3 separate regions of the Homo sapiens genome follow, and all the other regions are linked to region 2. Evidence: fine-mapped expression QTL. A gene starts in region 2. Each other region holds a variant in brackets. All regions are shown on one strand. Distances are between the middles of the regions. Region 1 overlaps STXBP4 (syntaxin binding protein 4). Region 2 holds the start of HLF (HLF transcription factor, PAR bZIP family member). Region 3 overlaps STXBP4 (syntaxin binding protein 4).

Region 1 (10,162 bases), 170 kb after region 2:
ACATATACACCATGGAATACTATGCAGCCATAAAAAAAGATGAGTTCATGCCCTTTGCTGAGACATGGATGAAGCTGGAAACCATCATTCTCAGCAAACTAACACAGGAACAGAAAACCAAACACTGCATGTTCTCACTTATAAGTGGGAGTTAAACAACGAGAACACATGGACACAGGGAGGGAAACATCACACACTAGGGCCTGTCTTGGGGTGGAGGGCTGGGGGAGGGATAGCATTAGGAGAAATACCTAATGTAGATAACGGGTTGATGGCTGCAGCAAACCACCATGGCATGTGTATACCCATGTAACAACACTGCAAATTCTGTACATGTATCCCAGAGCTTAAAGTATAAAAAAAAAAAAATGAGAGTTCACAAATTGCTAGTAACGAGATACAATGTACCAGGCATTCAACAGGAATAAATAATGCTAAAACTGTTTTCATCATGGGTGTACAAAGAAGGAAGCTAAAAATAAATGAAGAAAAAGATAAAGGCATTTCATTTTCAATTATTGTCGTTATAAAAACATTTGTACTTTTATGTGATGCAAAGATAGAGAACACAGACATAACAAATGAGTCCATTATGTCAGTATCATTTGGAATCAGACAAGCTTTTGGCATTTACTAACTCTGAACATGTCTCAAACAAAACTATATACAACTCTGTAGATCGAGAAAAAATAAAGAGAACTATGAAGTAATCAGAATTCACATTAGGTTTTTAAAGCTCCTTTTATTTACAAAAGCAGTTCACTCATGTCTGTATTCTCATGGTTCATTCATGCTTCCTTGTACATAAATAAATATCATGTATGCTTTTTCATTCCCAAAAGTCTAAGAAGGAAATGTGCTACAGCAAAGGGTGAATTTCCCTCTTTCTTATTGAATGCATGGATGAGATAACTTAATGAGGAATTCATTCATTAATCATTGAGTATCAACTATGTGTCAAGCACCATGATAGGTACTAGAAGTGTTAAGCTGAATGAGACAACATCAGATGGTAAGGAGGGAGAGCTATTTCTCTCAGGAAGATTCATAGTGGTATTTCTAATACAACAGCTGCTGTTTGGTTCTGGAGGCTGGTGTCTTAATTAAGATGGTAAAAAATCACCCTTCTAATTCCCCCAAATTTCTTTTGATTAGATAGAAAAGTGTCAAAGGGGTAGGGAGGGTGTTTATCTCTCATAAGGAGTCTGAAGAGTGCCTAAAAGCCCTAAGAATGTAATTTGTATCCCTTATTCCAACAGAAGAATATTTTTTATTCCAGGAAAAATTCTAGCCTTGCCACTGTGAAGGTCATTTTCCCACTGGGAAGACAGAGGCAAATGGCAATAGTTTATGGTGTTAATTTATATTGTGGTGTAACAAACTACCACACATATAGCAGCATAAACAATACATGTATATTATCTCATGGTTTCTGTAGGACAGGAGTCTGGACATGGCTTAGCTGAGTCCTCTGCTTAGGATCTCATAAGGCTTCAATCTACAGGTTGAGCATGGCTGTGGTCTCATCTGAGGCTTGACTGGGGAGCACTGAAGGATTCATCCGGAGACTGTCCTCAGCTCCTTGTCATGAGTCTCCTAACATAGCAGCTCATGTCTTTGAAGCCAGTAAAGAGTGCAAGATTCCAGCAAAATTGGCACTAAAATCTCATGCAATATAGTCATGTACAACCTGTGACTTTGCTGTATTGTATAGTTACAAGCAAATCACAGGTCTCAAACATACTCCAAGGGAGAGGATCACACAAAGGCATGAACATCAGGAAACAGGAATCATGGAAACCACCCAAAGAGTCTGTCCAACACAACACTTAGACTCTTCCCCTTTATATTACCTTTAAAAACCAAGTCTTCTACTTTGTCATTACTGCTTTAAATGTAGTTCTTCTCACCTTTATTTTTCAAAGTTTAAGTTAATCCTGGCCTTAACTTCCCTAACACTATGTGTAAAAGTTTTTGTTAGTTCTAGGTTGTTTCTTTGTCCATCTTTTGTATATTTGTTTAAACATGTAAGTTCATCAAAGAATTCTGTGAAGCTTCCCTTGATTTACTTGAGTACTTTCACGCTTTTTCCTTATTGAGGCTATAAGTAATTGTACACGGTAGTGTTAACCTTTTAGGATTTCTTACCCTACAAGCTACGTTCCCATCCACAGTCTCTAAACATGATAATAAATTCATTTTAGCCAAGTTTAAAACAAAACAAGACAAAACAAAACTGTGCCCATGGAGTCTGTAATATATATCCAGATATGTACATAATTAAACAATCACACCCTCTTTAGTATCTTTTGGTAGAAATACAATTCCAGCAGATAATAAAATAGTTGCAGTGCTTCAGTATTGCAACAGGTTGGCAGGCACTAATGATCCACTTTCAGAAGGCATCATTCATGCTCCTTTTATGCCTGGGCTGGTTGAGGTTCACTCTAATGGTTTTACTTTAGTTTCTCCCTTTTTTCATCTCTCATGCTCATTATGGTGTATCATCCTCACTCATAGTCATGACTTTCTGTACAGGAAACTTTGTCTGTAGTCTTATTCCCCTTCTATAAGGTGTGTTGCTCTGAAAAAAAGGTATAATCTTCGACAGAAATATTTTAATCAGAAAGTCTCAGCAGATGGTACGTGGTACCTACTTAGGATCTATATACACAAGAGTTGATTCTGTTCTTCCTCCAAGTTTTACCTACTTCAATACCGAGCTTCAGCTGCTTGCTTTGTACTAAAGGACATTAGCAAAGCTGGCCTATGTTCTTAGTGCCTGATAAATTGTATTCAACAAATATTTGTGGAAAGAATAGACTATTTGAGATCTATTTGTACATGCAAGTAGGTAGAGTCATGCACTGTATAACCATGTTTCAGTCAATGACAGACCACATTTGTAGCAGTGATCCCATAGGATAATAATACTGTATTTTTGCTGTACCTTTCCCATGTTTAGATACACAAATACTTAGCATTATGTTATAATTGCATACAGTATTCAGTACAGTTTCTGCTATACATACTTGAAGCCTAGGATCAATAGGCTATATGCCATATAGCCTAAGTAGATAGTAGGCTATACCACCTAGGTTTGTTTGAATACAATATGATATTTGCACAATGATGACATTGCCTAATGATGTATTCTCAGAATATATCCTTGTCATTAACCAATACATCATTATAATCTTTATATTTATGCATATAAATGGGTATTTCTGTATAGACTTCGGAAGTGAAACTGAAGCGTCAAAAAATGTACATTTAGATTCCTAGAGACACAGTTAGACTGCGCTCCAAAAAAGCTGAATCGAGTAAACAACTATTAACAGTGTATGAGTATGCTGGTTTCCTCACATATTTACTAACACTATAGATGACCAATCATTGTTAATATATGGCACTCTGGTGAATAAAAATGGTGCCTCATTGTTTTAAGTTCATTCCTAAGTAAATGAAATTAAAATATATATATTCAACATTCATCTGTTAAATATTAAATGTGCTTACTAAACAGATATTAAGCACAATAAAAAATATGAGTGTCTCTTGAATATGTGCCAGGTACCAGGCACTGTTCTAGGTGTTAGCTAATTGTGGTAAAGAAGACGTTCAAGATCACTGTTCTCAAGAAGCTTACATTTTACTAAAGGAGGTAGAAAATAAACAAGTAAACAAACAAAAAATAAAGTGCTGTGAAGAGAATAAAACAGGGGAGTGAAATAGAGTACTGGAGGTGGAGAGAAGGTCAACATTAGACAGGTGATTAGGTAAGGCCTTTCTGATAGTAGGCAATTAAACTGAGGGCTTAACGACAGAATGAACTGGACCTCTCAATCCAAACTATCCTCTTTGCTTTTCTCAAACACATCAGGCACACTCCTGCCTCAGGGCCTTTCCACTTGCTGTTCCCTCTGTCTGGAACACTTTTCCTTCAGAGAGCTATATGGCTTACTCCTGCCTCACATGGATGAAATGCCTGTGAATATCTAGTTTATGGGTTTGCAGAGAGCTACTGGGTATTTAGACCTCATTCCTATGCAATTTTAGTATTTCCATTTTCTAAACAAGTTCAGCAAGGCCTCCTTCATTCCATATATAAGACTGTATGAAATGTTTCCAGAGGGCCTTTGAGGCTGCTAGTTAGACATAAACTTCTTTATTATTTCAATCTTTATATCCATTAAGTAAATTTGAGTTGAAGACTGGTTTCCTACCCAAAATTACTGCCACTTGAAAGCATGAAATGTTACTTTGCAATTGCTTTCCAGGGTTTTAGCACACGGTTTCTCACGTGTTCTCAGAGAAGTAATGTAACGATAGATCATATAAATCGACATTAGTAGAAATTGTTCATTATCTTCCAGGGTTTCCAGTTCTCAAAAAAAAGGAGGTGCGGAAGAGAATGGTTTAAGGCTGTAAGGACAAAATAATCCTTTTACACAATGACAATGAACAAAGAAGATTATAATGATGATGATGATAATGGTGATATTAAGTACCTACCAGATGTGAGCCATAATATTTTCAATGAGCTGGCCACTTCAGATACATTAGCTTTAATCCTCAGGACAACCCTATGGATTGGTGATATCTCCATCTTCATAGATGAAAAAAAATGAGACTCAGCCAGCTTATAGAATTCTCAAAGCCAAATCTATTATGCCATAGAGTTGGCATTGGAACCTTATAGCGTATGATCTTTTCACTACTCTGCTTCTCTACAAGTAAAAATGAATCTACTTTTTTGATAAAAATAGAATTAGGGTGTGAACTAATTTATTTCATTTATCTGTAGTAAAAACTACAGGCAATTTTTTTTTTTTTGAGATGGAGTCTTGCTCTGTTGCCCAGGCTGGAGTGCAGTGGCACAACCTCAGCTCA[T/C]TGCAAGCTCCGCCTCCCGGGTTCATGCCATTCTCCTGCCTCAGCCTCCTGAGTAGCTGATACTACAGGCACCCGCCACCACGCCCAGCTAATTTTTTATATTTTTAGTAGAGACGGGGTTTCACCGTGTTAGCCAGGATGGTCTCGATCTCCTGACCTCGTGATCCGCCCGCCTTGGCCCCCCAAAGTGCTGGGATTACAGGCATGAGCCACCGCGCCCGGTCAACTACAGGCAATTTTTTACAAATGTTACTTTATTTTTATCCTATAATGCTTAGAGACAAATACATCATTTTTACCATTTTATAAATGGGGCAAAAGTGAGGTTGAATAATTTACTTAAGGTTGTAAAATAACTTGTCTAAGAAGCAAGTTTTCTCACTCTGAATATTTTCCCTATTCTACTTTTGACTTTAACTTTCATTAGATTCTGCAGTTATTATAAAAGAAATGAGAAACACAAATAGCACTGTGTAGTCCCAAGAACTAATTGCTTTATAATTTTTATCAATAATGCTGGTTGGATAAGGTCTCACATTTTCAGAAAAAAAATATTAAAGATTCAGTTGTTGACTTTACATCTTCATTTTTTTTCATTCAACAAAGATTTATTATTTATTTATTATGAGGTCAGCACAGTGTTTGTCACTAAAGATGCAAAGCAGTTTAGGACAAAATTCAGTGAGAAGAAAAACATACAAATAGATAATTACAAGGCAATATGAAAAGAGCAATAATACAGGTTTGAGCAAAGAGCTATTAACTCTGTCTGGAGGTTTAAGCTCACTTTATGGAGGAGTGCATCCCCAGTTTTAAGGTCTTTACCTAGGAACATTTATTATTACCTTTTTATGTATTGTTACGCAAATAGTCCCAAAGAGAGCTTTTGTTTCTTACTGTGAGATCTCCATGATGCTTAAAAATTCTTTTACTTAAAAAAATAAGCTTTAAAGTTCAGCAGTAACAAATGCTTATTCTTAAAAAAAAAAAAAAGCAATATGAAAGTTTCCAATAAAAAAACAGATAATCTCCCAATCCTATCTCCTGAGAAAATCAATGTTATCAATGAGGGAGATATCTTATAGCAGATTGAAAACTACTAAAGCTTCTTGAGGCAATGCAATCTATTGCTTTATCCTGAATATTTGTAAGTCATGAAAATTAGGTAAGATGAGGTATATTTTATTGAATGATTCGAATTAAAATAAAAAGTGAACTCTAAAACATAAACTCCAGCCTGGACAACATGGCAAAATCCCATCTCTACAAAAAATACCAAAAAATTAGCTAGGCGTGGTGGTGTGTGCCTGCAGTTCCAGCTACTTAGGAGGCTGAGGTGGGAGGATCACCTGAGCCAGGGAGATTGAGGCTGCAGTGAGCTGTGATCACACCACTGCACTCCAGCATGGGCAACAGCATGAACCTTGTCTAAAAACACAAAACAAAACAAAACCCAAACACACAAAACCCCCATAAACCTATAGTTACAGAGCAAAACACTTTCATAGTAGGTCACTTAATCCTTGAGAAAATCATATGAAGACTGTACCCTGACTTCAGAGACAGGAAGCGAATACTCAGAGAGGTCATCATATTTCACCAAATCTAAGGTGCCATCAATTATAACACACCATGCTATTTCATATACTTTAAAAGAGAAAAAAATAATTACCAGTTCAATTGTGACATCATGTCTTAACTATATTTCTATGAGACTCACAGGATTTATTAGGAACCCTGGACAGAGAATTAGAAGACCTGAATTATGATTCTGACATTGTCCTTTCCAAACTTGTGACTTAAGTAAATCATTAAGTTCTATGAGCTTTGATCTTTCCATATAGTTTAAATTAAAAAGAATAATGTCTCTCTCACAGGGTTGCTGTGAGGACATATTAATATAAAACAGAACTTTAGAACTGCAAAACTGATAAAAATTTAAAACCTTCTATGTCAATGTTATTTTTAAAAATATTACCTGCAACAGTAATATTAATACTCTGTTGTTGAAGGCAGGAACTGAACTTCTGGATCTGAATTGAACTATTTTATCATGATAAATAATTATGAAGACTGTTACTGCACACATTTTAGTACTGCTGCCTTTTCTGAGATGAGCTGTTAATACTTTGTCCTCATGTGAACTCTGGAAAATACCTATTCCACTAACCCAAAATAAGGCATTCAGTTTGGAAGAGGAGATTTTCAGGCCTTGCGGGAGGATGTTTCTTTCTGGCATCATTTACATTTTGTTTGTCCAGTTATAGGACTGAAACACACACTATACTTTAGGCATTCTATCATTATAGTCAGTTCTAATTGTGAAAGGAATCAGAGTTTCATCTTTTGAAAAAGTGATAATTGACTATATTTTACCACTCATGCCTTCTACAATCTTAGAAGCAGTCCTTGCATTTTTTCTGCCTTTGTGCTTGAAACCATTTAATGTGATAGACTGTTCACCATGTTAGTAGTAAGGTATATAGATTTTACTTGATTAAGTACTAGATAGTACACATCCTGCAATCCCCTTGACAACTACTATATTCCTGCCTGTAGTGAGAATTAAGTCTTGCTTGTCTAGCTGTGCCTTCATATCTTAATGCTATCGGTATGTGATTAAAGTATCACAGAAACCTGAAATAGTTTCTTGGAAATGATCTTCTGTGAAAACTCACAATATGTGGGAGCTTTGGGATTGATTCACACTAGATATTTGTTTTTGTATGTTAAACACTAGGAACATCATGGCTTCCTGATTTTTATGACTGAAGAACTGTCTATGTTTGCTTCCTGTGTACCAATACAGATTAGTAGATTGCTGCTATGTATCTGGTGGTATTAAAGAATTTCAGCGCTTTTTAAGGAATTTGTTTGATGAAAAAAGCAAATATCCAATAGTTGATTAGTGCAGAGAAGGCACAATAGAAAAACATGGGGTAGTCTAAGATCCAAGATGACAGCAGATCTGTCTGTGCTACCGGACTTTTTTTTACTCATTGAAACAATATGCACATGAATAGGAAAGTTTAAAAATTAACACCGAATTTCAGGCGTTCCAAAAAGTTATACATGCTGACACACTACTAATCCTTTTTAAAAAATAAATATTTGTTAGCTGTTACTTCAAACTGAGCCCAAGTTACCACCATCTCCCACCTCAATCACTGCAATAGCCACCTAGTCTTCCTGCTTTCTTCACTCTTGCTACTCTTAGAGCCCAGTTTTAAACAAACACCCAAAGGATCTTTTAAAATGTAGACCATATCATGTTACTCCTTGTGCCTTCCTACGACACTTAAAATAAAATCCAAACTCCTTAGTATGGTGTTCAAAGCCTTGTATTATCTGGCTTCTTGCTACATATCCACCCTTATCGCATGCTGTTCTCCTGCTTGCTCATACGTATTAGATACACTGGCTTTTTTTTTTTTTTTTTTCCTGTCCCTCAAGTATGTCAAGTTTGTTCCTATCTCACAGCATTTGTACTGGGCCTGAAAGGTCCTTCCCATAGTTTTTGTTCCTGGCTGAGTCTGGGATGCAATGTTACCTCTTCAAAGAAGACTTATTTGTCAATTAATCTAATGTAGCATCTCCACTTACTCATCTTTCCTAATACATAATCTGGTTTTATTATGTGCATAACACTCATCACTGTCTACAATTACGTTTTCTATTTATTTGTGAACTTGCTTGTCCATCTCTGCCCACTACAATTTACCTAAGCAGCTTGATAGCAAGGGCCTTGTTTGTGTTGTTATCCTAGGGTCTGGCCCATTGTAGACACTCAACAAATAGTTCTGGAAGGAAGGAAATAATGAATGTAAATCATTACCTTTTCTTAAGCGATATGTTTTTCTCTTTAACTCATTTTTTCTGGAAATAAAATTGTACTAGGAAAAGAATTATTTCTCTTGTTGCTGGCAATAATTTGCCAACTTAAAACTCCCAAGATTAAATTTGATATATTTTCTTAATGGAACCTTACAACAGTGACCTACTTTCAGTTTGAAACAACACAGGAGAATATGTGAGTTCGCCATTTCCTTGAATGGCAAAATGCCACAAATATTTGTTGTGGTTATTATCTGGCTTTGAATAATCAAGTCACCAGAGAACAGGGCTGTTTTACAAAAACAGGTAAAATTTCTCTCAAGTGACACAGAATCATATAATAAGCTATTATCTAATGCTTGGAACATCACCCCAATTCTAGGAGAAGAAATAGCATAATTACTTTGTGTAGAGGAAAATACCATAATGTCCATTCTAAATATTAATAGTATAGCTGACTTTCATTAAAGAAACACAGTTTTGGCTGGGTGCGGTGACTCATGCCTATTATCCCAGCACTTTGGGAGGCCGAGGGGGGCAGATCACTTGTGTGTGTTCAAGACCAGCCGGGCCAATGTGGCAAAACCCATCTCTACTAAGAATACAAAACTTAGCTGGGCATGGTGGAGTACACCTGTAATCCCAGCTACTTGGGAAGCTGAGGCACGAGAATCGCTTGAACCCAGGAGGCAGAGGTTGCAGTGAGCCGAGATTGCGCCACTGCACTCCAGCTTGGGCAATAGAGAGAGACCCTGTCTCCAAAAAACAAAAAACAAAAAACAAACAAAAAACAAAAAACAAAAAAAATGTTTTTTTGTTTAATAAATTCATGCTTCTTAATAAATATATGCTCTGGGGGAAATGAGGAAAAGAATGATGAATGTCTGAGGTCCAGAATAAGTAGAATGAGAAGACGCCATATCAAGTCTAAGCTTTAGCTCCTAAAGAAGGGAAGAATTTAAAAGATAAATCCCATCAAGGCCTTTAAAATGTTACAGTACTGCCTTTCCCCTTTTTCTCATAAAACCTTTTCTAATCTGCTTAAGTAACTTCTAATTAGCTTCAGATGTAACAGAAAAAAGGCAGCTACTACTCACATTCTTCTTAAAAGGTAATATATTGCTGATTTCAGATAGGAACATCTGAAGTGATGCAGGAGACTTGCACAGACAAATACATGCAATCAGATGGTCACTGCTTGACAGTCTTATTTTTCAATTGGTTGAGTAAAAATAACATAGTTATTGAATCAACCTGTAAAAGTTGAACATCCATTTCTTTTGTTGCCTAAAATAATATGCCAAAGATTTTTCAGAGTAATGAGACCTACTAAATTACATGGTTGTTAATAAAATACAAAATCATAATCTTTCTTTACTGAGAGAAATTAGGACTTTTTTTACTGTTAATAGAAATATTTTCAAAATGTTATGTA
Region 2 (10,162 bases):
GTACTTCTATTCTGGTCACTCCTGTGAGCCACACAGAATAATCAAGAACTTTCTCCTTTTTCAGGTTTGCTTGCAATATCCATCCATCAGGCCAACATCTCTTAGAATTTTATTTTGCATCTTTATAATGATCAACAATCTATGAACAGCAGAGTGTTATTTTACCTGAGTTTGGTATTTGAAGACGAGGTTTAACTTTTTTCCTTTTCTATGAGGACTATCGAGTTTTCAACTCCAAGAAGGAAACTATGTTGAAGTGTGTTTCCATTATTTAAAATAAGACATTTAAATGGAGAACTTATTTCTAGACCCTCAGTGTTCCCTTTGATCCCAGTGTCTTTCCACCAGAACCTTACAAAATGACATCCCCTGAAACTCAGGAGTTCTTTGCTATGCATTGCAACTCTGATTGGGCATTCCAAGCCTTCTGAGAGTCACTGATCAATACTGACTCTAATGAGCTCTGACAAATGAGTTTTCAAGCTGCTTCAAATCCCAAAACCCCAATTTTTGACTCTCAGTAGGAACCAAGGTGTGAACACCCAATATGTGCAGGTCTCCTGGGAAAAAATATAGTATTCCTAACATGGTACACATCCTAAATTTGGTAGGGGACTAAGAAATACTTGTCAGTTGATTACAAGTGTTGGTCAAAATACCCCAATCCAGTAACTACTGGGCAAAATCTCCTGACATTTCTCTCCAGAGGAAGGGTTATATACAGTACCTAGTTACCTTACGAAGATATTTCAGAAGACAGGGATTGAAATAAGTAATAAAAGTTGACACATACAACAATGATCACAATTGCTTCCACAAATAGAAGACTCATTGCTAATCAGTTGACCCTTTATACGTATTATCTCTAATTTTCACAATAACTCAATCAAATAGAAATTGTATCCTTCTACAAAAAAGGAAACTGAGGCTCCAAGAAATGATGTTGCTTTCTAAGGTCACACAGCTACAAAGTGGTGATTCTCAGTCTACAGAGCACAATGACCGAGGCATAACTGTGTCTCTCACTGGGGCTCTGTTCCCTTCTCTCCTGGCTGTTTTCCCACTTTGAAGGGTTATTCATTTTGTTGCTTGTTCCTACAAAAAAATTGAAGATAGTGGTACCGCACATTCTAAGTAGCAGGGGATCAGGATCACATAAAGGCATGTTTTCCCAAGCTCCCACAGCCTCCAGGGGTGGCTGGAGGCTAAGAATTAATTCCATTCCAGCCAGTGGCCTTGAGTTATAATTCAAAGTGAATTTTGGAGAAGGGGCCAGCACACAGAGGTCTGAAAGGAGGAACTTCAATATGAATATATCGAGGCAGGGGTATTCTCTTCCTCCTTTACATCATTTCCTTCCATTTAAATCTTGCTCCATGTGCCACAGAAATTTCTACAAGAGTCGAGGACACGGAGTTCAGTAACAATCTCTAGCACAAGTTTCGCATTGTCCTGCTTTCTGTCTTCCCCCACAGCTAAGGCCCTCAGCTCTGTGACCTTCCGGATGATTTATCTGGCTGAATCTTTGTTCCTGGTTACCTGTGCACATGAAATCGTCTTTCTTCCTGTTCATTTGGTACTACAGGGTGCTAAAGGCATGAATTCAAAGCTCCTTCAATCTGTGTTTATATCTGAGCATTAGCAGTGGGTTTTGAAGTACTGGTCATTTCAGGTGATATTTTTGTGTACTATTTCAAGATCATTTACAGCTGACCTTGCAGCCTTGTGGGCTTTGATACAGGTGGACTGAGTGTGATAGACAGATGAAAATGAAAAAAAAAAAAAGATAAGAACAGTTGGGTTTATGGGAATAGCAACGAGAGAGATGGAGTCTGGTCCTGAAGAAGGCTCAGAAACACAATATGAGAGCCTGCTTTTAGATTCTACTTCTCAGCTAATGACAAAACAAGATGAAAAGGATGGAAAAAAAAATACCTGCCCCATATCCCTACTCACATTTTTTTTCCTTCAGGACAGACAAGAGTGAATATAGGTAAACCAAACCCTATTGAGAGTCTACCTGTTATCTACGTGTTTAGGGAATGAGGAAAAGAGATACAAGATGCGATGGAGGCTTAAATTATCCAAATCATTAACTGTAAGTTATTTCTTAAACTGCAGCCCTTGGATCAGCTGCATTAGAATCCCATGGGGGAGCTGGTTAAAATGCATATTCCTGGGCCCTCATTCCAGACTTGCAAAATCAGAATTTCTAGGGGTAGATACAAAGAGTCTGTATTTACCGGACTCTCCAGATGAGTGATATGGATGCTCATTAAAGTGGGAGAGCCTCTGCCAGGAGTGGAGCAGAAGAAGGTACCTCTCTTAGGATCTTTGCTAAAACCTGAGTGTTAAGATGTTTATGCTAACTCTACCTTGCCTGTCCCATTCACCCTCCTCCTCCCTTTCTGAAGGGAGAATCTTCAGGGCACTTACCTGGTCTGATGGGGCTCTGCATACAGTTCGGAGATGGGATGCCAGGGTGAAGGGGTGCAGAGGCCCGGCTGCTGAGGTCCATGACCGAGGGGGCAGCCGAGGAAGCTGGCTGCAGCCCAGGAGGGTGAGGGCTGTGGTCATGCTGAGATGGGCTGGGGGGAATGCCATTTTCTGACAAAAACTCCTCCAGGTCCATGTATTCCAACTGGAAAGTATCTCCGTCATAGGGAAGGGTTTTGTCCCATAAGGTAGGCCCCAGGAATGCCGACTGGGGGACCGTCGGGCTGTTACTCTCATCATCCAGCTTCTTTTCCTTGTCTTTATCTTTACTAAATGCTGCAGAAGAAGGGAAAGCTGGACTTAAAAAAAAAGAAAGAAAAGAAAAACAATACCGCTCTTTTATCACTTTTCCTGGCCTGTTATAAGACTATTTCTCACGAATGGCAGGGTCCTTCTCTGGCTGCTGTCTTTTGTAGATCTAGAGTTAAAAGTTCAGGCAGGACGTGGATCTCTGCCTGTTTTTCAACATCTTCCTATTTACTTTGGAAAGAAGGCACTAGTCCTTGGGGCAGGGCTACAGGCTGATCTAGGATAAAAACCAGAGAACAGTCTCAGCACATTATTTGAGAAGAGTAATAACTTAAACCTAAAATAGGAATATAACATCTGTGATTATATACAACTGCTGTCATTTTTAAGAAAACAACAGCCAATAACCAGGCTTGAATTATCTTCCAGGAATTCATCACAGCAGCAATAGGAGGTCATTCAGACTTACAAAGCCAGTGAGTTAGTGGTCTTAATTTTGGTAAAGCAGGGACCTTCCACCCTTCTTTAACATCATGTTTAGAGTACCTACTGGATACCTGGTTCTTTCCATATATTATCTCAAAAATCTCACAATAAACTTGCAAAATAACAATTACCTCCATTTACAACAAAGACTCGGAGGCTCTGAGACTTGAGGGAACTTGACCAATGCCTCATGTTGGCAGAGAATGAGAACTTTCTGAGCTCACATGTGTTTGCTTCTAAAGCCACTGGGGCACACTGATTTTTACAAAAGGAGTTTAAAAAAATACAAAGTGTTTTCTTCCTTCTCTTCTCCAAACATTTGAGTATGATCCAATTTACAAAGAGTATGCATTTACAAAACCTTTCAAAAGCAGAGCTATTGGAAAAGGTGAGTTATTCTATACATTTATGTTGGAAGTATGCAGCTATTTGCTACCTGGAAGTACTGCTCGCCCATTAGGTCTTTAACAAGCATTCCGGATCTTGCCAATTCTAGTATTCAGTCGTGGGTGGAATCTGGGATTAAGGAATTTGCTTCTGAGTTTCATCTTCAGAGAAACACAGCCTCCACTGCCATCCATTCTAACCCTCTACCATCTCATCTGAAAATCTGACTTAAAACACCCACAGATGCAAAAGCCTGCAGGCAGCCCCTTCCTCCCAAATGCTCTTCCTTAAAGGATAGTTAGGGAGGGGTCCCTGGCTATCATCTGCAGATTGCAAACTCTTGCAATGCAACAGGTTGTCCTCTCCTAGAAAAGAAGGTGCAAGTACTCCCAAGCTATTTGTAGCCAAATAACCTTTCAGAACTTTACACTGTGAGCCGCACGGTTCGCATTTGCTACTGTGATACCGAAGGCATGAAATCGCATCAACCCAAATCCGTGGCATCACTTAGCCGGGTTTGGGGCCTCATCACACGTACCCCTCCTCTACTGCTAAGGCCAAGGTTGTCTTGGGAAGGTTTGGGACTTACCAAGAAAGGGCTCAAGCCAGAGGAGGCTCCTGCGCGGTTACACGTGAGCCTGCTCCGCTCTCCCCTCCCACCAGAAAAAGTGCACCGGGAAAGTGTCAACGCTGGAGGCGTGCACGGCTTCCCGCCGAGAGACCACTCCCCCCACCGGCCCCAGCCCCCACCCCGCTTTCTCAGCTACCCTTCACCAGAAGAAAACGAGTCTTCTCTCACACCTCGTGAGTTCCAAATACTAACCAGTAACAGAAGCTGTAACACAACCCCAAAACCCAGGCTACGCAGTGAAACCCCCTCCCTCAAGCCGACCCCCGCCCCCTGCCCCGCACAGAACCAGGCCCCAGGGTTTCTCCTCCCCAGCCCGGGAGGCTCTGCCCTCCGCAGGCGGGCTCGCTCTGCGTGCGGGTGTGCCTCGTTCTAGGGAACGATCCTGACCTGTCAAGTTACACCTCCCACCCGCGCCGCAGGAGCGGGACCCAGGGAGGCCGGGTGCCCGAAGCTCTTTTAAATGTAGCTCAGGAGGGGTCCCTCCCCTTTCATGGAGGAGGAGGAAGGGGAGGAAGGGTGCTGGGTGAGCTCCTCAATTTCATCAGCGCGGGGCCGGGGCGCCGCGGGACAGGGCGGGAGCGGGGTTGGGGGATGCTCCAGCGGGCGTGCCCGGCCGCGGAGGGGGACCCCCGGAGCGTCGTCCCTTCCCGGAGCGGGGCCGCGGCAGCGCTCACCGTCTTCGTGGTGAAGGGGGAGCTTCAGCGGGTTCTCCAGCAGGGACCTGAGCACGCCGTAGGGAGGCGGGATAAAGGTGGGATTCAGGGGGAGCGGTCGGGACATTTTCTCCATCGCGATGCACTCAAATTTTTTCCCCTTAAAAAAAGAAATAAGAAAGAAACAACCGCCCCCTAAAATGTTGCTGAGCTTTTCCTCCGTCCTTTGCCAAAAGTACTCGCTCTCAAGGCGGTGGAGAAAAGGGAAGAAAAAAATTACTTATATCTTTATAAATACATCTGCATAAAAATATATATTAAAAAAAAACTTTCGGGTTTCCAGTGCAGACGGTCCCAGGAGAGCGCGCCAAGTGCCCGCGGGCTCCCCGGCGACGTGCAGGATGCTCTCACCTGCCTCGAACCCCTCGTTTTGCAAAATGTTCAAAATTGAAAAAAAGAAAGAAAAAAAAATGTCGACGGCTGCAGAAGGGCAGAAGACACCGCGCCGACCCCAGCCCCTAGTGCCAGCACCGGAGGCGGTGCGCCGTCCCACCCCACCCCCCTCCCCGCGCCGGCGGCCGCTGCTCCCCAGCGCTCCGCGGCCCCGCAGCGCCGGGCTCAGCGCATCCGGCCGCCCATGTGCCGCGGCCCTGACAAGAGTGACGTCAGGGCCCGCACCTCGCGCCCATAGGCGTGCGGGGGCGGGGCCACGCGCGGCACCGCCCGCCTGGCCCGCTCGCCCCGCCGCCGCGTGTTTAGCGTCGCCGCTCGCGCCGATTTTCGGGGACCTTGCAGCACTGGCTGGTTGCAGGGGAGCAGGTGCCAGATTCCCTGGGCCATCAACTTAGGCTTAGATTTTTTTTTTTTTTTTTGGTCTGGGTGGGAAGAGGAATGAGAAATTTATATCCATAGTTTTCAAGCTGGGAATAACCTGAGGAGTTTTAAAAAAATCGCGATACCCAGGCCGCATCCCAGATCAATTAGATCAGAACCTCTGCGGTGCTATCAGGGCGTCCATAATTTTTAAAGCTCCCCAGGTGGTTCCAAAGAGTAGCCAAGTTTGAGATGATTGGTTTAGATCGGATGGAAGGTAACGACCCTTCTCAATATTTCTCCTGGCCCCGGCCAAGCTTAGCGTCTTCTTTCTTGCCCAGTTTCCACCACCACCAAAAAATAACTACTTCCTATAAGTCCGAATGGGATGCAAAAAGCAGAGCGGGAAGCGGAGGACTGAGCTGCTGGGCACTGTTTCCCACGCTGCAGAGAGGTGTTAACGGTGGGGGGAGAGGGGGGGTAGACATTTGCCTGAAACGGAAAGAGGCGGGAGAGACACAGACACACTGAACGGGATTTTAGGAATATTTACTCTGGGTGAATACAGGTGATTGCGCTTGGGTCAAGTTATTAGGTTTGCACGGTGATTAAAATAATTTTGTAAAGTATCCCCTAAGGGGGCTTCGGCTTTCCTTGCTGTTACAGCAGCTGCAGCGTCTCCCTCTGCCAGTTTGACCTCGTGGCACCCACGGTCCCCGAGATCTGCGTGCGACCCCCTGTGTGATAACTCCCTTCCCGCCTGGGGTGGTGCGGGCGCTGGCGTGCAGCCGCGACGCCCCCTGCAGAGCTCCGCGGGGGGCCAGGCAGGTTCTTCCCCTCCCTCCTTACCTCTCCTTACTAAGACCCTAGTCTTCGATCTGGGGAAGGGGCTGCAAGAACGAATGGGCACAAATGAAAGAAAACCGTTTTTCAGTGGGACGTAAAGGCCTTTGTGACCCCAGGCTGAGTCGCTGGGGAAGGATGTGGTGGTGTCTTGATGGGGTTTACTTCCCCAGGAGAGGGTTGTAAGAGAGGAGGCGCCTGAAACCCCAGAGATCAGGAGCGGCGGCGCAGCGGGGTTCAGAGTTCCCTGGCAGGGTGATTCCGGCAAGTGCCTTTCTGCCCTGAGCTGTAGGTTCTTCATAAAAGGACACGTAATCTAGTGACCTCTACTTCCTCACTCTAAAATTATGGCAAAAGGGTAAGGCAACATTCTAAGTGAGATGTTGTTGCAGTGTTTCAGGTTTCAGACGAATTCCAGAAACAGCAAACTTTTAGTTAATGCCACATGCATTTATTGAGCACCACGGTATGTATGCCAGCGACTATGCGGGGGCTAGTGAAAAAAGATGAATAAAACATAATTTTAACCTTCAAGAACTCATCGTTTAGGGTTTGGCATATAAGCAAATAATATAAAATAGGCTTAAAAGAACAAAAATGGATAGATGGAGGTGACAGGGGCACTTACATTATTAGGAAAGGGATTCTAGAGAAGGTGCCTGAGCTGGGCGTGGAGGTAATAGTCTCTCGTGAACGGTCTGAATCCATCAATTATATTATATTGTTTTTTTAAAAAATAAAAAAGGGACCTCATCTCCGCTATCCTTTTGGAGACAGAGGCTATTTCCCTGTCTTGAGTTCCTTACATCCCTGTAAGTCCATAAACTGGCAGGACTGAGAGCATCCTCTCAGCCTGGTTAGAAATCTGTTAGATTGCAGATTCCAGGTGCATGAAAGATGCGTTACCTAAGCTTTGTGTAACAGTCCACTGACATTACTCAGCACGCCCAAAGTGCTCCACCTGCTCATGATTCTCCGCATGTCCTCACTTCCCCATGTTTCCAGACATGAAACTCTTACCAGGTCAAGTAATCTGGTTTCCCAGGGTAATCTTCTCCTTACCACCTGACAGAACCAAATACTGTGGCTTGGAAATTGCATTTCTCATTGCAAGTGGATAAACTGGCGTTCTGGTTGATCAAGCAGTTTCTTGGGAATTTGGTTCATTTAATTTAATTTCCCTGAGCCTGATCAACATGTCACGGACCAGATTGAGGACCAGCCCCTTAGACCATGGTGACTCCCTCTCACTTCTCTCCATCCTTCTCTAACTTCAAAGGTATTTCTTAGAGCCTCAAAAATTATAAGCATTGGCTAATCTTCAATCTAGCCCCATTCCTTAACAAGATAAATGAAATTGGTACATCTTTTCTACTCTGGCCATTTGTAAATGTTATTTTCTTTTATTTTTTTAACAAACCATGAACATCTTTCTTTCTCTTTCTCTCTCTCTCTTCCCCAGAAGCAGTTGTGGATGGCTGCTCAAGAGGAAGGAGAGGGATAGAAGAAACCAAAGGTTATATTGGTTGGGTAGTAAGACCCTCTGAATTCCACAGGTTAATTCTCAAATGGACATATCCCTAATGAGCACTAACCCCAATCTGCACATATGCCCAGAGATAACTGCCGCTCACAAGTGCTTAGCACTTGTCCACTTACAGAGCCCTTCCATATGTGTCATATCACATACTTCTGACAATTCCATGAGGAAAGCAATGATGCTGATTATTGATTGCTGTGTAACAGATCACTCCAAAACCTAGTGGCTTAAAACAACAATCATTTTATTATTTCTCATTATTCTGCAATCTAGGTTAGGCTCAGCTGGGATACTGGGCTGGCTGGCCTTCTCTTTCTCTTTACATGGCCTCCTTACACCATAGATTCATTTTGCTTGTTTTATAATTTCATACAAGTGAAATCATACTGTATATACTCTCTTGTGTGTAGCTTCTTTCACTCTGCACAGTATTTTAGACATTCACCAATGTTGCATATAGTTCATTTCTTTATATTAGTGAGTAGTATTCCGCTCTATGAATATACAAAAGTTTATCTGTTGTATTGGTGGACATTTGGGTTGTTTCCAGTTTTTAGGCATGAATAAAATGTTTATGAGAATTCTTGTCTGAGTTCTTTTGTGAACACATGCTTTCCTTTCTCTTGGATAAACAAATAGGAGTAGGATTACTGGATCATAGAAAAGATGTGTGTTTTACTTTAGAAGAAGCTCTTCTATAGTCTTCTGAAGCAGGTAAATTGTCCTGCATTTCCAGCAGCAGTATATGAGAGTTCTGGTTGTTCTAGCGCCTCACCAATATTTAGTGGTGTCAGTTTCTCTTAAAACTTGTAGCCATTCTAGTGGGTGGATAGTCAGTTCTCAATGGACCTTTCATCTGAATTTTCCTGATGAAAAATGATGGCATGTGCTACTTCATGTGCTTCTTAGTAGCTTGTACATCTTCCTGTTCAAGTCTCTTGCCCATTTTTGAATTTGGTTATCTTTTGATTACTGAATTTTAGGAGTTCTTTTATATACTTTGGATAGTCTCTTTGTCAGATGTTTGTGTGTTGTGAATATTTTCTTCCAATCTGTGGCTTGCTGATTAGTTTTTATAATAACGTCTTTCCATGAGCAGTTTTTAATTTTGACAAAGTTCAATTTATCAATTTGTTTTTCATGATTATTGCTTGCTATGAACTAGGAAACTTTTGACTACTCCTGAGTTCTGGAGATATTCTCCTATACTTTCCTTTATAACTTTCATAGTTTAAGCTTTTTCATTTAGCCTTATGACCCATTTCAAATTAATTTTTGTGTATACTATGAGGTAAGGATTAAGGTTGGTTTTACTCATGGGGATATCCAATTGTTTTAGACTTTCATTTCCCCCTTGAATTGTTTGTTGTTGTTGTTTGTTTTGTTTTGTTTTGAGATGGAGTCTCGCTCTTGTTGCCCAGACTGGAGTGCAATGGCGTGATCTCAGCTCACCGCAACCTCCGCCTCCTAGGTTCAAGCAATTCTCCTGCCTCAGCCTCCTGAGTAGCTGGGATTACAGGCACCAGCCGCCACATCCGGCAATTTTTATTAGTATTTTTAGTAGCGATGGGGTATTAGTATTTAGTATTAATATTTTTAGTAGCGACGGGGTTCTCCATGTTGGCCAGGCTGGTCTCGAACTCCCGACCTCAGGTGATCCGTGGACCTTGGCTTCCCAGAGTGCTGGGATTACAGGCGTGAGCCACCGCGCCCGGCCCCCCCTTGAATTCTTTTGATGTTATTGCTGACAATTATTTGACTGTGTATTTGTGGGTGACCCAAACTTTTGATCCCGAGGAAAAATGGGTATTTTATCACTAAGGACAGAATAATGCTATTTCTATGTTCTTTCTAAGTTTCCTGGGATCTGATTCATATCCAGCAACAGAAAAAAGTTCACCAAAGTTTACGGCTAAAATGAATGCCTCACTTTCAGTGGCTCATTCAGTTTGTTGACAAGACCTCTACAAAGTTGTCCACATTAAGTTAGATAAGAGCCAAAAGCAGAGGCATTATCCAATTTGCTTTTTTGTGTATGAGCAAATAATTAAGCCTATTGGATGT
Region 3 (10,162 bases), 140 kb after region 2:
CGAGACTCCTCAAAACAAACAGACAAACAAACAAACAAACAAACAAACAAAAGGACTATGAAATCTTATAGTTGTGTCCAGTTATCGACTATATTTTAAAAAGAAGGAAGAGAGAGATACATAAAAGGGATTATAGGAGGCCAAAGTTAGGCACAGTAAAGTTGTGCAGGTAAAGTGGGTTTGGGGGTGGTAGACTCAAATTTCCAGACCCCACCTCTCAATCTGATTTGGAATCTCATCCAAGCAATCTCTGGTACAACGGGTTAAAATCTCCCTCACATTCACCCAGCGTGGTAACTTCCTGAACACTCTCAGCAGTGCCTCTCCCTCCTTACCTGCCCAGACTCTGGATCTGCCAGAAACTTCAACACTTTTTTGACTTTCATTTGTTGAATGTCTACTGTCAGAGATCTGGTATAATGGGACCCAGATTCAGGACAGTATCTCACACATAGTGGGCACTCAAGAACTATCTGTTGACTGACTGTAGAAATTTGCCTCCCATGAAGACTGATGATTTAGTGAATCTTGCACATATTTGAAATTTTACTGTTGTTATGAGGTCTTTGTACTCACCAGGGGAACTTATAAATATTTGTACAACTGTTATTTGTGGATTTTGACAACAGGGTAAGGAGGATCAATAGACATACAATTTTAGAAATGCTGTCACAGACTAGATGAAATGAAGTCAAGATCATTGCTGTTTCCGACCTTGAATATAAATGAACATACATAATGAAACTCTAAACACCACTGATCCCTAATCATGTAGCATTTGTTGTTATTATCTTTGTCCTTTAAATTAAAAAAAGTTTATCTGAAAATCTGTTAACAATCTCACATTACTTTCAGGTAAAATGTGGAAAAAAATCATAAAAAATCCCTGAAGACATTTGCCTTTAAGAGGATGCTTGAAAATTTTAAATGTGTTTTTAAAAAGATTTAAAGAAAAACAATAAAAACACCTTCATAGAGGGTTATTTTTTCAAATAATAGCTCTCATGAAGTTAGATAACTCAATAATCATTACATTAAAGAGTTATAAACTTAAATAAAAGTGACCCCAATTTTGCTTTTTCTCTTCTGCAAAGAATATAGGTTCTGACTGTATAGTTTATCACTCAAAAAATTTAATCATTTAAATCCATCCATGGATGGATTAACATATGTCAATCCATGTTTTCAATAATCTTGAAAGACCATTGAAAACATGCATCCCCAGAAAGTCACATCCTTGAATGTTCACAACAGTTTTATTCATACTAGCTCCAAATTGAAAACAATTGGAAGATCCATCAATTGGTGACTGGATAAACTGTGGCATAACAATATAATGGAATACCACTCAACATTACGCATACAAGGATGAATCTCAAAAGCCCTACACTGAGTGGAAGAAGCTAGAAACTTAATAGTCTATTTATTCCACATTTCAGAAAAGGCAAAACTACAGTGATAGAAAGCAAATCAAGGGCTGCCTGGGACAAGGGATGGCAGGGAATAGATTACAAAGGAGCACATGGAAAGGTTGTGAGGTGATGGAAATATTCTAGGGCATGATGGTGGTAGTATAATGCAGCTGTCTACATTTGTCAAAACTCAGTGAATTGTACACTTACATTTTATTGTATGTAAATTATATCTCAATTTTAAAAAGCAGGGGAAATATCCTGAACCAGTAGTATGTGCAATCCCATTAAAAAAGCTGCAGTATGAGAAATCCCATTACAAAATGGCTGCAATCTTCCTTTCATCTTTATGCTGTGTCAGTCCCACTTAATGTCATCCACTGAGTTATTTCCTGGAGCATGCTATAGACTTCTTTTCGTCTCTGCTTTTCCAGATACTGTTCCTTCTACCTGCAATGCTCATCACTATGGAATATAGAAACCCAGTAAGCACTTTGGAATGATTTCAGAGACAACAGTCACGCACCAGAATCTCCTTGTCTAGCTGTTAGCAGGTCTTTGATTTAGGGATTTCTTCAGTTGGGAGATCTATCCAGAAATTCTTTCTTTTGATGTAAAATTTGCTTACAATGAAATGTACAAATCTTAAGTGTATATTTACTGAATTTTCACAAATGCTTACACCTGTGCAACCCAAACCCCAATCATGGTATAGAATATTACCACCACCCCAGAAATATCCCATTCCTGTTTATTTCTACTTCTGTGCCCCAAGAGGCAGCCAACTGTTCTGATTTTTTAAAAGGTATTATACTTTTAGCATTTCCATTTAGTTTTACACAATTATTTCTATTTCTCTGCTTAGAGATCTTCTCTTTCCATTCATTATGAGCATGTTTTCCTTCGCTTCATTGCATGTAGGTATAACAAGCACTTTAAAGTCCTTATTTTAACATCTGGTCTTTTGGAGGTTGGCATCTGTTGACTGTCTTTTCTCTTGAGAATGAGTTACATTTTCCTGTTTTTTGTTTTCACACTGAGTAATTTGGGATTGTTTTCTGGAAATTATAAACATTATACTGTAAAAACTCTGGATTCTGTTACACTACTCTGAAGCATGTTAATCTTTTTGTTTTGGCAGGTCATTTAGTTGGTTGGACTCAAGCAGTAAGTTCTATTTCTTAGGCAGCAGCTAAAACCTCAGTTCAGTTTCCCTCCCCATTCCCCTTTGCTGGGTGGTTTGCAATGCGCCCTATATTTGTGTAGTTTGGGGTCAGACCCAGAAGCTTGGACAGAGTTTATATGCAGAATTTGGGGGTCTCTGTCTCCAGTGCTCTTCTTTCCGGGATTTCCCCTCTGCCTTTCCAGTTGTCCCAAACTTCATATGCTAGTTCTATAGGCCAGAAAGACTGCAAGTTATCAGTTTTACCACTCTAAGTGTCCTGCTAGGGTTTGGAGTAGAGTGAGGCAAGTAGTGTCTACATACAAAATTTAAGGAAACACCCTCCCTCAGGCTCATGCAAGTTCAGGGTCACTACTTGAGACTGAGCCTCCTTAAGAGGGAGGTGCACCCAGGGTACCTTGTTGCCTTATCCTAGTCCCAGCCCTGGGTCCTGCCAACAATCTAAAAGTAGGACAAACAGGAAACTTATCCTATGTTGGGTCCTTCTTCCAAGTTTTGACAGATCTCCAGAATTTGCCTGGTCATATTCACTTTCCAGAAGCTTCAATTGTATTTTTTTTTTTTTTTTTTTTTGTATTTTGTCCAGGGTTTACAATAGGTTTCTGCAGGATGGTTAGTCTGTCAGGAACTTACTTAGCCTTACTGGAAGTGGAACTCTCAGATGCATAGAATTTTTGAGTGAAAAGAGATTTTAGAAATCCTCTAATTGTCTCATGTTACAAATTGGATACTGACACCAAAAATGGTTTCAGAGCTTTGCCATAGAGTCAATTAGAGGAAAACATAGTAATCTAACTTCTACTTTAGTCATCATCCACTATGTCATTCTGCAATAATGCTGAATGAAAAGAGCAGCTTCTGTGCAGAGTATAAAATGCTGCACTCAGACCTTTCTTTCACACATGAATAAATTGTACGTTAACTTTCAATGATTAATTACCACCTGCTTAACAGTTTAGTATTGGTATAAACTGAATGTTTCTGTCCTCTAAAAATTCTTATGGTAAAGCTCTCACCCCTGCTATATGGCTGCATTTGTAGGTGTGGCCTTTAAGGAAGTAATAAGGTTGAATGAGGTCATAAAGAGTAGGACCTTGATTCCACAAAGTTAGTGTCCTCAGAAGAACAGGGACAAGAGCCACCCCACCCCTCCTCTGTGTGCATGTACAAAGAAGGGTCATGTGAAGACACAGCAAGATGGCAGTCACCTACAAGCCAAGAGAAGAGATCTCGAATGAAGCTTACGCTTACTTTTCCACCACCTTGATCTTGGACTTCTAGTCTCCAGAATTGTGAGAAATAAAATTTTGTTGTTTAAGCCTCTCAGGCTGTGATATTTTGTTATGGCAGCCTGAGCAAATACAGCAATAAAAATGGATCCAAATTTTGCACACTGTTAAATCAACTTACTTGACAGAATTACTTCAGTCTGACTACACTGTAAAGGTAAACTCATATTCTTCTCTAAAAGAGGTTGAACTCAGAAAAACAAAATCTACCAATCAATGCAGTAAAAAATAAATTTGAAGGATAAATGTAGCACTTGAAGCAGATCCATTGTGAGGCTGGAAGGCAAACAGTGTTTCTAAAACCATTTAATCTCATTGTATTCCCTACCTTATTTTTAAAATGTTTATATATAACTATTAATAAATATCACAGTCTATTCTGCAAATGCCTTTAAAGGGTCATGCCTTCCAAAACAGCATGTAAACAGGTACCATGCAAAAGTAAGGCCTGAACACATATCTTTTATTTGCAGACTAAGCTTTCTGATCCATCATGAACCTCTGCTCATCTTTTCTCAATTTGCACATCTTCCAACCTCACAGCCTGTCTTATCATTTGGACCTCCATCTCATTCTCCCAAGTCCCCATATAATGCTGTTTTCCTATTTCTTCTCATGGTGTCATGGGGCCTCACTGTCCCTTTTACCTAAACACCCTTGATAAGATCTTTCCATGGTGACTGGCTTGGGACCTTCTTGTCATATCTTAGGCTGACACAATCCAGCATAGCCTAGATTTATAGCAACCAATCATTATCAAATAAAAGGTATTAATAGAAATTAGGAGGTGTTAAGTACAGTTAGAAGTGTATTATGCATTAGAGTTTCAAGTCATATTTCTCGTTTTATCTTCTTTTTTTTTTTTGAGACTGAGTCTTGCTTTGTCGCCAGGTTGGAGTGCCGTGGTGCAATCTCGGCTCACTGCAACCTCTGCCTCCTGGGTTCAAGCGATTCTCCTGCCTCAGCCTACCAAGTAGCTGGGACTATAGGCGCGGGCCAC[C/A]ATGCTTGGCTAATTTTTTGTATTTTTAGTAGAGACGGGGTTTCACTGTCTTAGCCAGGATGGTCTCGATCTCCTGACCTTATGATCTGCCCGCCTCAGCCTCCCAAAGTGCTGGGATTACAGGCATGAGCCACCGCACCTGGCCCATCCTATTCTATTTGTCGTTGTTGTTGCTCATTGCTGCTTGCTGTTGCAGTCAGATATAGTCCATTATTGTAACGTTAGAACACAATATTTAATTTCTACATTGCAACTCTTTTATCTCTTCTCTTCGTCTGGCAGCACTTAGTAAAGAAACCTATATAACAAGAAGCTAGGAAATATGAGAATTATCTCTCATTTGACCAGTGATAGTAATTTCTGATTAATTCAGGAAAAAAACCTGCATGCAATTATAAATAGTCCATTTTTATTTCGACATATTGATTTGGTTTAATTGATGCAGTCCATCATACCAAGTAAGCCAGACACCAATTCTGCTACCTCTTCCCTTAAATTTTCCCCTTTATTGAATTATCTTAACAAGTTACTGGACACACACACACAAAAGCTGCTATGTTTAGGGATCCTGATATGAAAAGTACTTTGGCAAGAACTTATCTAACTACTAGGTTAGATCTTGGGGTTCTCTGGGCAAATCAAGTTTTGAGATTAAAATTTGAGCATACTTTTCTTCTTAAAATTGTGTGTCTGCTTTAACTGATGACAAAAAAGGAGAGGGATAACACATTTACAAGGAATATAAACTCCCATAAATGTGAATAAAACAAAGGAGGAATTAGCAAAATCTCTAAAAGATTTTCTAATTAAAAAATTTGGTTTTCTACTTTTAAGTACACTTTGATTTGAGATAATGTTCTTTAAGGATATATTTTAATGACTGGATAAAATACTTGTAACTCAAAACTTTATTTATAAAAGAGTGCTTCAAAAGCACTTAAAAGTTTCTTCTTTTACTTTAATCCCCTTATAATTTTAATATTTTAATCTGCTTTGGAAGTCATCCATTAGCACACATAGACACATATCTCAATATGTAAGTTGACAATCTAAACTTTTGAGTGCTTCTTGTTATAATTTTTATAAATTCAAACTAGATGGAATTTAAATGGACTGCTTTCTATTAATTATAAAATTAACTGCATGGAGTAAAATCTGAATTCATTTTTAAATATAGCCATATCTGATATAAAGTAAACATAAAATGTTCCAACTCAACTTTTTGCTTTTGCCAGTGTAGACCACATTCCTTCATTTATCTCTGCATTTGTACAATATAGACTCCATTCCTTCATTTATCTCTTCCTAGAGTTACTCTTTCTTTTCATCTGCCTTGTGAGCTTCTGCTCATCAATCTAGAATCAGCTTAGATGATACTTCCTCTGTGCATACTCTCCTAATTTCTTTGGCTGACTTCATCTTCCCCTCCTCTATGGTACTTCTGTGGTTTGTACCAGTTTCTATCACAGCACTTAACATTCTCCTGTGGAAAACATGATTGTGGACAATGACTATGTTTTATCCATCTTTGTGTCATTTTCTGGTACACAGCTCAGGCTTTGGTGCATAATAAACGTTTAACAACGGTTTGTTGAGGATTTATGTCCCAAGAAGTAAGACATCTTCAACATTTTTTAAAAAGCAATATTGTCTGGAGGGATTTAGAAAAAAATGTGGCATATTAGTTAGGAATGATTTCTGGTAAAAATGACAGATAACCCAAGTAGCTGGGAAAACAAATAGGTATTTATTTTTAAGGAGCCTAAAGGTTGCTAGACACAGCATGAAGGTCTCAGGTTTTTTCATCTTTCTACTCTAGTATCCTTTAGGTGTTAAGTGGCTGATCCCTACACATTTCGTCTTGGGGGCGTAAAAAGCCCCCAGTGCTATAGGCAACATATTCGTATTGAAGGCAGGAAAGAACAAGAGGTGGTCCCAGCTCCATCTGTCCTTATCCATTAATTAAAAGTTTCCCCAAGCAGAAGTTTCTAAGCAGACTTTACTTTATAACTCATTGACCAGAACTGGGGTGGGTGGCCACTCTGTGAGGCAGGCTACCCCTGAGAGGGCAACTGTCTGACTTTACAGTTTCTAATACAACAGGCTGGCTAGGGCAAAACACCAAGTCTGCCATAGATTACAAAAACAAAAACAAAAAGACAACAGAAGAGTGGATTAAGGTTAATTAAGATATTAAGGTTACCAGGTTTGTTGAAATAAGTATGTCAGAGACCCTGGGGATTCTAGGGTATCAGCACAATTGGGTACATAGTTAATAATTCACAGAGATATTTTCTCAAGATTGTGGTTGCTCATAATGACATAATGAGATGTTTCAATCTTGCATCTCATCTCTCTCTCAGTGTGTTTTTCAATTATGACAGTTTTCCTTTATCTCCCATTCACCCCAACCTCACTTTGGTTCCATCACTGCCATTCAAAATTTCTCAGAGTCAAACATTAAATGTTTCATTCTCTATAAATGCTTTCTTGATTTTAAAATATTTTTTCTCATTTATCTGAGCTATTAGCTCTTTGTACCATTCATAAAATACTTAATATCTTAAACTTTGCATTACAATAGTTTTCACAACTCTTTTACTCCTCTCTTCCCACAGACTGCTAGCTCTTTGAGGGTACTGAATCTTCCTCAGTCATACTAGGTTCTGAAAAATTATTTTCCGAATTGAATATTTAATTCATTTCATTTGCTTAGTGTTAGAAGGAAGGAAATGGGAGGAAAAACCAGCATGTATAAACACAGGGCCACTGCTAGCCTATGTTTATGTTGCAAAAACTAAAGAAAAAAATTCCATCATGTGTTGAAAATGGCACCACTTCTGTGTGCAAGGGCTAGAACATAGTGCCTCCTTTGAGCTGATGCAACTCTGAGGGCATGGAACTTGTAGGGCTAATGTTCCTTCTGTGCAAATTACTTAAAAAAAAAACACTCTTTCTTCTAGGAAACACAGTCCTGTACCAGAGCATCCAGTTGAGTGAACACAGCAAGGGCTGGATTTCAGTCTCCAATGCACTCCCTTGACCTCTGCTTATTGCACAAAATACTCAATGCTCTGCAGCAGCCATTTAGAAAAGATTTCAGAAGTTCCATTTTTACCCAGTATGTCTACAAGTATTTTGTGATTTCTCCAGGCTCTGTTTGTAATGATGGTAAACTTGGAGCTTCATATTTTTGAATGGGTCTAATTGTCCAAGATACTTGCTCACAATTGAGCCAAAATTTGTCTTCCTATTTTTCCTATCTGATGACCTCAGACTTCTGATGCTAGATATAATAATCATGTCTCAAAGCAGTGTACATATCTCTGGCAGGAAGCTGCCTCCTAAGCAACACATAATAGAATGGAATGTAATTATTTATAGGTAGGTACTACCAACACTGTATTTGGTTATCCAACATTTGTGTGAACGTGATGTGGGCTCACTTGCCATCCCATACGGCTCACTGACAATTTGACTATTAAATATGGAATTTTAATTTGAAAACATTATTGATAAAAAACAAATGCTTGCAGCTAAATGTATAGAACAATAAAGACTGACATTTAAAAGGTAGCAGTATTAAAAATCACTCTTTCTCATGTCCTCTAAGCATCTTGGGAAAGGCTTGAAATTAAGTTTAAAGAGGATTTCAGAAAATAAGGGAAGAACACCTTTAACTTATAATATTTTCTACTTGAGAAGTACACTTTAGTAACCTTAACTGTGGCTATATGTTAACAATAAAGGTGGGATTATAATGATTTTATGTGATGTGTCATCAAATACATTTTAAAACGTTTTCTGTATAATTAAAGCAAAGAAATACAAAGGCTAGCTATAGAAACACAATATGCATATGGTTAGAAAATTCAAAATATCCAAAGACTCATTTTTTTGTTTGAGGTATTTAAATATCAGAAGCATGAAAGGAAAGGAATTAACTAATATTGTAAGATTTCATTTATTCAATGATAACTTATTAATACATTTTGGTAAAGAACATAAACTGAGTTAAAGTTTATCTGTATTAGATACAGTAGAAGATTTACTGTCAGTGTCATATGCTTATGGATATATTTTTATTTTATATACTTATATATTTTTAAATCAAAACACATAAATATATATTCATTTTCCAATCTTTTTTAGGTCAAAGTCTTGTCTTTGTTGACTGACTTCTGATTAGTGTTCTGTATTGTTCTTCTAGTTCTAGGGTTCTTGTATTGTTCAGAAATCATACTAAAAATATATCAGCTCTCATTTCCAGATGGGGTTTCTTTAAAGTGGATTGAGAATTAAGAATGGTTATAAAATAATCCAAGGGCAGAATCCTTCTAGACTTCTATAATTTTCTCCCAATCTTTCACAGATGACTCCTTTACAATCCATCAGTAGTATTAACTCACCATTATCAGATCTCTCTAAAGCATTCTACTTAGTTTTTGTAGAAACAACTTTTTCTTTGCATATTCATATAACTAATTTATAATAAGCACAAATGGCACCAATCCTTTTGAAAATAAAAATGATATTTTTTAACTGGTAGCAGTTTAAGTCCATGGTAGTACCAGGGAGAGGCTTCTTAGGCACAAGCCCATGGGCATCAATGTGCTTTATAGCGAGAATGGATGAGTTGGCTAATCTGGCAAGTGGGTTAAAAATAGAGATCAGTTAGGAGATATACCTAATGTAAATGACGAGTTAATGGGTGCAGCACACCAACATGGCACATGTATACGTATGTAACAAACCTATACATTGTGCACATGTAACCTAGAACTTAAAGTATAATAAAATATTTATATATATATATATATAAATCAGTTAATACAGCTTCCACTTTTTGGAGAAAGTGGTTCTAAAAAATACTAATGGTGATGGAGTCTTTTATAATTTATTGAGAAAATTTTAAAAAATTACTATCAGGACAGTTACTTAACTACTGAAAAGCACATGTATTTAAAGCCATTTTTCTTGGTTTCTATAATAGTACATTTGCCTAATTTTCCTTCTATCTTTCTGAACACTCCTTTTTAGTCCAGTTTCTTCTTTCAATAGACCTCTAAAGGTTCCTAGTGTTAAGTCTTGGATCCTCTTTATTTCCCTACATGTACTTTCCTCCTAGGTGATCTCACCACTTTCATAGCTTTAAAAACCATATATATGCTAAAGATTCTTACATTTATTTCTCCATCCCAGCCCTTTCTTTTGACTCCAGACTGGTATAGACAACTTGCCAATAACATCTTGACTTAAATGTTTCACAGGCAACTTA

The links. PIP is the estimated chance that this variant, and not a neighbour inherited with it, causes the effect. A credible set is the group of variants that fine-mapping cannot tell apart.
Region 1: its variant is the best candidate, but not a certain one, in a credible set for the expression of HLF in blood mononuclear cells (TOPMed, PIP 0.54).
Region 3: its variant is the best candidate, but not a certain one, in a credible set for the expression of HLF in whole blood (INTERVAL, PIP 0.56).

What each region holds. Positions count from the first base shown.
Region 1 is chr17:55,092,337-55,102,498 of GRCh38, reverse strand. The region is part of intron 16 of STXBP4 (syntaxin binding protein 4); the gene reads right to left. It overlaps LOC107985002 (a long non-coding RNA gene), which reads right to left. Exons shown (of 2, transcript XR_001752943.2): 1 at 9,825-10,162; 2 at 8,306-8,693. Among named protein-coding and RNA genes, the nearest start is that of STXBP4, 130 kb to the right of the region's middle. The variant T/C (reference allele first, on the strand shown) is at 4,894.
Region 2 is chr17:55,260,361-55,270,522 of GRCh38, reverse strand. It overlaps HLF (HLF transcription factor, PAR bZIP family member), which reads right to left and starts at 5,563. Exons shown (of 4, transcript NM_002126.5): 1 at 4,924-5,563; 2 at 2,437-2,772. The coding sequence starts at 5,038. RefSeq lists a silencer at 5,440-5,759.
Region 3 is chr17:55,118,486-55,128,647 of GRCh38, reverse strand. All of the region lies in intron 16 of STXBP4 (syntaxin binding protein 4), which reads right to left. Among named protein-coding and RNA genes, the nearest start is that of HLF, 140 kb to the left of the region's middle. The variant C/A (reference allele first, on the strand shown) is at 4,885.